2 separate regions of the Homo sapiens genome follow, and region 2 is linked to region 1. Evidence: fine-mapped expression QTL. A gene starts in region 1. The other region holds a variant in brackets. All regions are shown on one strand. Distances are from middle to middle. Region 1 holds the start of ELK4 (ETS transcription factor ELK4). Region 2 overlaps SLC60A1 (solute carrier family 60 member 1).

What was found. PIP is the estimated chance that this variant, and not a neighbour inherited with it, causes the effect.
Region 2: its variant is the best candidate, but not a certain one, in a credible set for the expression of ELK4 in whole blood (TOPMed, PIP 0.74).

What each region holds. Positions count from the first base shown.
Region 1 is chr1:205,629,290-205,633,680 of GRCh38, reverse strand. ELK4 (ETS transcription factor ELK4) reads left to right here and starts at 1,670. Exons shown (of 5, transcript NM_001973.4): 1 at 1,670-2,049. RefSeq lists enhancers at 1,283-1,592, 2,203-2,622 and silencers at 1,763-1,912, 2,003-2,192.
Region 2 is chr1:205,597,560-205,601,950 of GRCh38, reverse strand. It overlaps SLC60A1 (solute carrier family 60 member 1), which reads right to left. Exons shown (of 10, transcript NM_181644.5): 8 at 4,101-4,171; 9 at 2,700-2,820; 10 at 1-1,545. The coding sequence ends at 1,490. Among named protein-coding and RNA genes, the nearest start is that of SLC60A1-AS1, 30 kb to the right of the region's middle. RefSeq lists an enhancer at 787-1,986. The variant A/T (reference allele first, on the strand shown) is at 2,689.

The DNA of each region.
Region 1 (4,391 bases):
CTCCCAAAGCAGGCTGTTTTCCAAAAATACACTGCAATTGACAATGCCGTAAGCTCAGTCTAAAAGGGATATGACACAACTACTGGCCCTAAGGCCGAATCAGATGTTTACTGCCAGTTTGAACAGAGCAGCGTAGTGTGCAGATCTCCACAACCCTTAACTGTTCTTGGTAGGGGGCTTTAAAATGAAATCTTTTTATAAACAAATGTTTCCAATAGGTGTATCCTAAACAGCCTACCTTAATACTTTTTTTTTTCTTGGTTTCCAAGATGGAACTTGTTGCAAGGAAAATTTTATGTTAGGGGCCAAGACTGCTAGTGCTTTTCAGATACTGCATGTTCCTTATAAAACATGTCTTAATATGTTTGCATGCTTTGGTAAAACTAATTTTGGAAAGGTAACATCTTTTGGTAGAGTTGTTTTTACAGGAATAGCTACCTTTGTGGATTATAATTACTCTGTATTATGGAAGAGGAGGCTGGAAATCAAGGAAGTGATGATTCTCTTCCAAAAGCCTACAAAAGGATGACAGAATCACATTTCACTCAGTGAGTTCAATTAACTATACATTCAATTGTGGGGGCAAAAATAAATGACACCACGATTTACTGGGTATCTACTATGTGCTAGGTAATGCACTAAGTACATTATGCTCTATACTTCATTTAATCCTCTCAGCAATGCTGCTCATTATCGTCATTTTACATGAGGAAACTGAGGTCCAGAAAGGTTAAGCAACTCACTACAGGTCACACAGCTAGTAAATGGCCTCGAATAACCAGTAACTCAGACACTGACCTCTCTTTGGTTTCTTGTTAAACAAACACCTAATTTATTTCTTGGAGGTTTTGTTCAGCTGTCCTAATTTATGACTTTACATTCCTTCTGGTGCTAAACTGCTCAAGTAGCCTCTTGTATCAAGTGTGACCTGATTCCTTAAGAATTTTACTTAATGAGAACCTCTAAGCTAGAAACTCTTGCTAGGTGTTTCATGCACCTTATTTTCTTTAATCATTACAACAACTCTAAGATTGGGTTCTCTCCACCTTATAAATGATGACTGTTTTAGAGAGGTTAAGGTTGCTTAAAATTGGTGAGTTAGTGAGGGGTAGAGCCACGAATGGATTTCTGGTCGCTGCCTCCATCGTCAGGGCAAGCTTTTCCCACGACTCCAGCGCTTCCATTTGTCAGTCCCCAGGCTAGAAAGCCACAGTGCTAATTTAGTATTTATCAAGCGTTTGTAGTGTCCTGGGATCTGGCACTTCGATGAGAAAGCTGTGACGGCCCCAACTTCTAACAGCGAGTGGTAAGGAGGACGAGGGACACAGGAGGGAGGAGACTCTCCCCAAAGCTTAGCACCAACAGAAGTGGTCCCCCGCAGGTTGCTCTGCGAGCGCCACCTCTTCCCTCCAACCGAGGAGAAAGTGGCGCGCCTTTGAGGAGTCCGAGGTCCCGGCCCAGGCGGCAGCTTGGGTCCTGGCGGGTTCCGGACGGGCGCCTCAGGGACCTGGAAGCAACCGCACCGAACGCGACGGAGAGCGGCGAGACGACTCCAGGAGGCGCCCGAGCTACATCCCCCGGCCACACCAAACCCGGGTTTGCTGGCAGACGCGGCTCACGACACCCCTTAGGGTCGCAGCCCCTCCCCCGGAAGTGACGTGTAGCGACTACGGCGTCTGGGAGGGACCCAGGAGCAGTCGGGGGGTTTGAGAGTGGCGGCGGCCGCGGAGGGCCTGGCAGGCCCCGCCGCTGCAAGGAACGCCCCGAACGCGCGCGCCCGGCGTGTAGCGGCCCCAAGACCCGCGCCGCCGCTGCCGCGTGCGGGGGCGGGGAGGGCGGGGCGCCAGGAGCCGCGGCGGCGGGAGATGCGGGCGGCTGCGGGCACCCGGCGGGCTCGGCTTGGCCGCCGCCGCCTTCTACGGCTCCGCCGCGGGGGTCGCAGCGGCTGCCGCGCCGTCCTCGAGTTTCCAGCGTGAGGAGGAGGCTGAGGGCGGAGAGGCGCATCGTGTTCGAGGCGGAGACCGAGGGGGAGCCCCGCGCGCGGCGTCGGTGAGCGGTCAGCCCCGCGCGCCCCCTCGGGATCTCGCGGCCACAGCCCCACCGGCCGGGAGCGGGGGCGGGGGCCGAGGGGCGCGCGGCACAACAGGAAGTGGGGGCGGGGGCCGGGGCCGGGCGCGCGCGCTCCCCTTGGGTCCGCCCCCGGCCCGCCGGGCACCGCGGCGCACAGGTGGACGCCGCAGCGCACCGCTCAGCTCTCGTCGCCTCTTGGTCCCCCGAAGTCTCGTGGGCGAAAGGTGGCGGCGATTTTTTCGGCGTGGATGGGGAGGAGGGGAGCAATTCTCATTTTCTGTAGTGACAGGAAGTTGGAAAATGAAAGTACAGTAATTCAGTGCTTACCAAGGCCCGGTGAGGTTGCACCTCTTCCCCCAGACTTTGATCTCCTGTAGGGCACACGCGGCCGTCCGCGTTTCTTCCTCTCCCCTAGCTCGCTAGTCATCCGGTGTCGAGTTTCATTTCTTTTTCTCTTTCGCTCCAGCGGCCCCCCGCCCCTCTTTACTTTCCGCCTTGTGCACAGCTGCATCGAGGCTGGTAACTTCATTCCTGGGAAGATCAATTGGAAACATCTTTCGGGGCGGGATAGTAACTGGCCTTGGAAGGAAATAGGGATGTTGTTGACTGAAGTAGTCAAAAGTACACACTTCACTTTTTCTCCAGCTATTGCTATTTGAAATTTGGGGAATTTAAATAAAGATTCTGGAGTTCTATGCCTCATCAGAATGGTTTGTCCATCTCTTTGGTTGATAGATCAGATCCTCTGTCGTCTTTTCCCACCCCCTACACCCCCTGGCTTGGAAAACTTGGTGCTTCAATATTTAGGTTTGGCAGCGGTGTTTTCATTAAAATGTAGTATGATTCAATATTTTCCCTTCAGGAACACTCTTCTCTTTGATTTTACTTAAACATTAAAACTGCGTAAGTGGAATCTGTTCATTCCTAGTGAGGTAGTGTCTTTAAGTTTTATTGTAAGAATATTGTAAGAACTGTGCAGGATCCTATACAAAGAGTATTTTTTAGGAGCCTGTGTAGTTAAAAACGTCATGTTACTTTTGGTTACTTTTTGACAACGGTGAGTATTTTGATTCGAAACTAGGCTTGATACATTCATAACTTGGTTTTTTAAGTAGCAGGCTGAAGAAAATTTGGAGACTTTGTGTTTTTTTGGGTCTTAGCTACTGTCTCTGAAAAATAGTTGGGCTATGGGTCACCACAGCAACTGGACTGTGTGTATTATAAACATGTTTAGGGTGGAAAAGGTTTTATTTAATAGAGACTTCCTTTCCTTAATACATTACTTCAACATGCTCCCTTTCAATTTAGGACAGGGATTGGTCTATCTTTGAAGTGTTAAAATAGAATCAATTATGTTTTCAGCCTTTACCCCCTCAAAAATCAAATACCTTCATTTGGACCAGTTAAGTGTTTTCTTCCTTTGTTATAACTTTAAACTTTAAAAATTGCAATTGTGGAAAACTCGGGATTCCTGTAAGAAGGAAAATCAAGTAATTAGCCTCTTTTTTTTTTTTGATAGGTAACAAGAATAAAAGGTTTTGTTTGGTTTTGTTTTGTTGTGTTTTTGTTTTTGTTAGAGACAAGGTCTCACTCTGTTGCCCAGGCTGGAGTGCAGTGATGTGGTGTCTGCTCACTGCAACCTCCATCTCCCGGCCATTCTCCCACCTCAGCCTCCCGAGTAGTCACGCACTACCATACCCGGCTAATTTTTTGTATTTTTGGTAAAGACAGGGTTTCAACATGTTGCCTAGGCCAGTCGTGAACTCCTGAGCTCAAGCTCCCCCCTTGGCCTCCCAAAGTGCTGGGATTACAGGCATGAAGCAACCACATAATTTTTAATAACTGTCTTAGGGGATTTTTTTTCTTTAGCTTTTATTTTATTTATTTATTTTTTGAGACAGGGTCTTGCTCTGTCGCCCAGGATGGAGTGCAGTGGTGTGATTTCAGCTCACTGTGACCTCCGCCTCCTGGGTTCAAATGATTCTTCTGCCTCAGCCTCCCTAGTAGCTGGAATTACAGGTGCCCACCACCACGCCCAGGTAATTTTTGTATTTTTAATAGAAACGGGGTTTCACCATGTTGGCCAGGCTGGTCTAGAACCCCTGACCTCAAGCGATTTGGTCTCCCAAAGTGCTGGGATGGTAGGCGTATGCCACTGTGCCCGGCCAGCTCTCTTTTATATCTGATGAAATCATTGAAGATCATTGTTAATACCACACTTTTTGAAACTAAAATGAAGAGTTTTGACTTAACTATGTAAGAAGACGTTGGCTGCTTTTCAATCAAAAGAATAACGATATCATAATTGAATTAATAAAATA
Region 2 (4,391 bases), 32 kb after region 1:
TTGTGAAAGAAAAGGCCTTGCCATGGTATAAAGAGTTTTTTTCCCTCTATAAAAGATGTAAAATTTTTGGCTGGGTGCAGTGGCTCACGCCTGTAATCCCAGCACTTTGGGAGGCCGAGACGGGCAGATCATGAGGTCAGGAGATCAAGACCATCCTGGCTAACACGGTGAAATCCCGTCTCTACTAAAAATACAAAAAATTAGCTGTGCGTGATGGCATGCGCCTGTAGTCACAGCTACTTGGGAGGCTGAGGCAGGAGAATCGCTTGAAACTGGGAGGCGGAGGTTGCAGTGAGCCGAGATGACGCCACTGCATTCCAGCCTGGCAACAGAGTGAGACTCTGTCTCAAAAACAAAAACAAAAACAAAAAAAGATGTAAAATTTTCATTAGGTATTTTCAGAAAGTCTTAGTGCTGTTTCTATACCTTTTATATGCTAGTCAATGTCAGTAGAAAAAAATGGAACATCCATTTCATTCTCCTGGGCGATTTCTGGACCAGTTAGCCTTGATTACTAGCAGTGGTATGCTGGTAAATGTTTAACCACTGGCTCTCCGGGATCTGTAGCTTTTGCCAGTGTCCATGGTAATACTCCCACCAGGCTGATTTCAAGCTACCAACATGCTATCACGAAGAGTGGAGTTGAGACAAGGTGCACAGTAGCACACCATCATATATAGTAATTCCACCACACAGGTACCATGGACGTAAATTACCTCAAGAGCATCAAGATCAAATTAGGAAGTGATATGCTTTGAATATTTATTACCTTTGTTTTAAATGTAATTGATTTAATTATAAGTTTGTATGATTTGATTTTTAATAATGGCTGCATTTAATAACCAGCTGTCAAAATGAAAATTTTACAATCAGCTTTTCTAAGTTGGTATGAGCCAGCTTAGCATACCACTACATTAGTATACCAAAGAGAGCAAGATTCAACTTTTCCTTTTGGTGTTTGAGAATATAGATAAGCTATTGATGTCTGCAGCAGGAATTTAAGAGACTTTGGACTATTAAGTGAAAAGCACGAAAATCCTTTGAGCATGCCAGGGAATAACTTGCAGCTTGTTTTGCTTAAATTGAAATATATCTACATATAGCAATGATCATGGAGCTTTACAATTTCAACCTATTTTTACAAACTTCAATGAAGAATGATCTCAAACCCAGAGTATGGTCCATGCATGAGGTGACAAATGGAGTGAAGCGCGCGGCTGTCTCCTTCCTTCCCATCTGGGTATCTGGACAGCTCTTACCAACAGTCTGAACCAGGGAAGAAGATAACTTGAGAAGCCAGGTAAACTTCTAATGATTTTGACCAGGTACCAGGACTCAATTTAATTTCCTCTACCCAACCAAGTTTTAGTGGAGAAGACTTGAATAGCCATTGAGAGAGCGCCTCCACCACCACCCAGCTTTCTGAAACAGTATGGTCGTGCTGGTGATCAAGAGGCTGAAAGTCTTCTCTTGCCTTCTTCACCCAGTTTTACCTCTGGTAGCACTCAGAGTTTTCCATTCCAATTGATCTGTCTTGGGTAGGAACTACAAAAGAAAAACAAAACAGGTAGCATGTTTCAGCAGCTCTGATGAGTTGCAGTGATGATTCATTCTGAGAGCTTACCCAGGCTGTTTGTTTCTCTGCCATTCTGTGGCTCTAGAGGGAGCAAAGTGAAAAGTCAGACCCCCTAGTTCTGGCGAACAGTTGGTGGAGGCAGTTTCCTGAGACTGCTGTCTAGGGCTTGGGGAATGTGTCTGTCTCCCATGAATAAGGAGCCCATTAAGTGTTATTCATTTAATGTTCAGCAAATATTAATTGAATGTAGGTCTTAAATGAAACTCCTGTGTGTGTGCAACCAGTACTGCTGTCTCAGAAGTGAGGCTATAGTTAGTGCTGTTTTGGGGGCCACCTTTCCTTCTGGGCCTTTGTACTGAGCGTTTAGAGCGTAGATATGTTCACCCACTGAGAGCGGATGGTGAATGCCTGTTCCTTTAGTCTTTTTGTGATGATTTTGCTTTTTATAGGGAGGACAGAGTCTCCGCCTGGGCACCTTCTCTTAAGAACTGGCTTTGCACACAGCCGATGCAGTCCCTGGGCACTTTGAAAGCAGTGGGCAAAAGGGCAGGTAAGGGCTCAGGGTTATGAAAATTGCTTTGGGACTCCCCCTGCCTGGGGTCTCTAGAAGGGAGACTATTCTTAGGAGGTGTCTGTGCCCTGAAGGAGACTTTCTTTGCTACTTGGCCTGAAGGACTTCTTTTTGAAAAAAAGATTTGGACTAGAATCAAAATCCTGAACTGCAAAGAGATGGCCAATTAGGCCGTTGGGCTGAGTTCCAGCCAAGGAGTCGGGCTCTGCCTTTCAGTTCCCTGAACAGGCTGGAAAGAGATTCTTGGCTCATGGTCCCATGACATGGTGGGATGCAGGAAGCCAAGTTCACAATCCATACCCCTCTGCTAATGGAGAAACCATGAGTCAGCCGACCCAGCTCTCGCCTATCTTAAGAGTCCAGCGCAGACAATCGTATGGAAAGCAGGAAGAGAGGAAAAGGAAGCTGTAGAAAAATAAACATTTCCTTGCATTTTACTTGGAACAGAGCAGCGTTTCTGGCACGTTAAGATCCATAGCATCTCCTGCTCCCCCGCTCCCCGACCCCGGCTCTGTTTTCCTCCTCTTGTGTAGAAACAGAT[A/T]CTTTCCTTACCTGATGGGAGTCCAGGGTGCATCCTGTGGAAAAACAGGAGCAAGATATAGAAGGTAAAAGCCAGACAACCAAAGATCACGCCACAGACCAGGAAACTATAGCTGCCCTGAGCCTGGAATATCTGCCAAAGGGGAAAACACAGAGAGACAGACAATTAAAACTTCACGTGGAAGGTGTATCGGAGGAAGCAGCCTTCTCCATCCTTGGCTGGTTTTTCAGCTAAGTTGAGGCCCGTCACACCAAGAGATGGAATCACGGGGAGGAGGGAGGCCTTGGCCTTGTTTCAAGTTGATGTGTCTGGAGAAGGCCGAAGTCCTGCTCTAAGGCAGGGACTGGACCTGGTGACCCCCTGCAGTCCCTTGCAGCTCTGTGTTCTGGAACCTTCTGACGATCTCTATCATCACTGAAGCTCCAGTCATACTAGGTGTTTCTATACCCATAAGCCCTAACCAGAACTTTGCAGAGGATATATTGTTTTACTCTTTTATTATGAGAATTTAAAACATGTTAAAGTAGTATATGGAGCTCCAATGAACCCAACACTCAACTTTAGCAGTCAGCACCGGTTTCATTGGTGGCCTTGCACTTCTTTTCTGCACTAGGTTACACTAAAGCAAGTCCCAGATGTCACATCATTTCAATGAGGAGGGTATGGTGAGATGCAGCTCTTCCCCTCCCTCCAGCAGGGCAAAAGAGGAGGAAAGGAGAATGGAGTCACAATGAGGGAGATTTTGGAGGCCGGAAGATCTAGATGTGAGGTCCTCTCTGTCAGTTTCTGGAAGTGTGACTGACCTAGGGTAAGTTGCTAAATTCATCTGAGTTTCCGTGTCCTCTGTTGTAAAAAGGGGAATAATATCTACATTATAGTATTCAATAAAAAGTAGATGTTAGGTTGTTTTTTTTTTTTTCCTGGTGAATAAATGAAACATGGGTGGATTTGAATAGAACTGGAAGAGTTGGCCCTCTCGGTCAGGGCAGGAGTTGAGCAGGAAGCTGGGCCCTCTGCAGGGTGGCCAGAGGCTGTGAGAGGTGGGGTAGGGAGTGGTGGGTTCCGAAGGGATGGAAAAAGAACTCTGACTGCAGTTCCAACCCATCTCAGGCTCTGAGAGCTAAACAGCATTCCCACGGGCCCCCTCTGGCCCTGCTCCCAGACATGGCTTGTGTTTGCTTTGGACTTTTCCATGCATCCGTTTACATCTCCAGATCCCACATATGGAGGCTCAGCTCTCAGGGCTGGCTTGGAAACGGAAACAGGTAACAACGGCACAGGGGGCCCTGCTGGCTTTGCTGGAGACTCAGGAAAGGGACAGTTTGAGTTCAGAAGGTGGCTATCTGCATCTTCTCACCTGTCAGAGGAGTGCTCCCCAAATGCTCCCCTCTCCCTTACAGGTCCCCACATACCGAACCAACCAGCATCTGCAGCACCATCTCGCCAACTCCTGCCCCTGTCACCAGCACTGTGGTTGCACAGCCTAACAAAAAGAGAAGGTTTGGTTTGGTAAAAGCAAGTTAAGGAGACAGAAGCCAGCATTACAATCCAGGTTGCTGGCCAGGCACAGTGGCATATGCATTTCGGAAGGCACATCCCAGTACTTTAGGAGTCAGAAGTGGGAGGATCTCTTGAGGCCAGGAGTTCAAGACCAGTCTGGGCAATATCACAAGACTTGGTCTCTACAAAAAGTAAAATTTAAA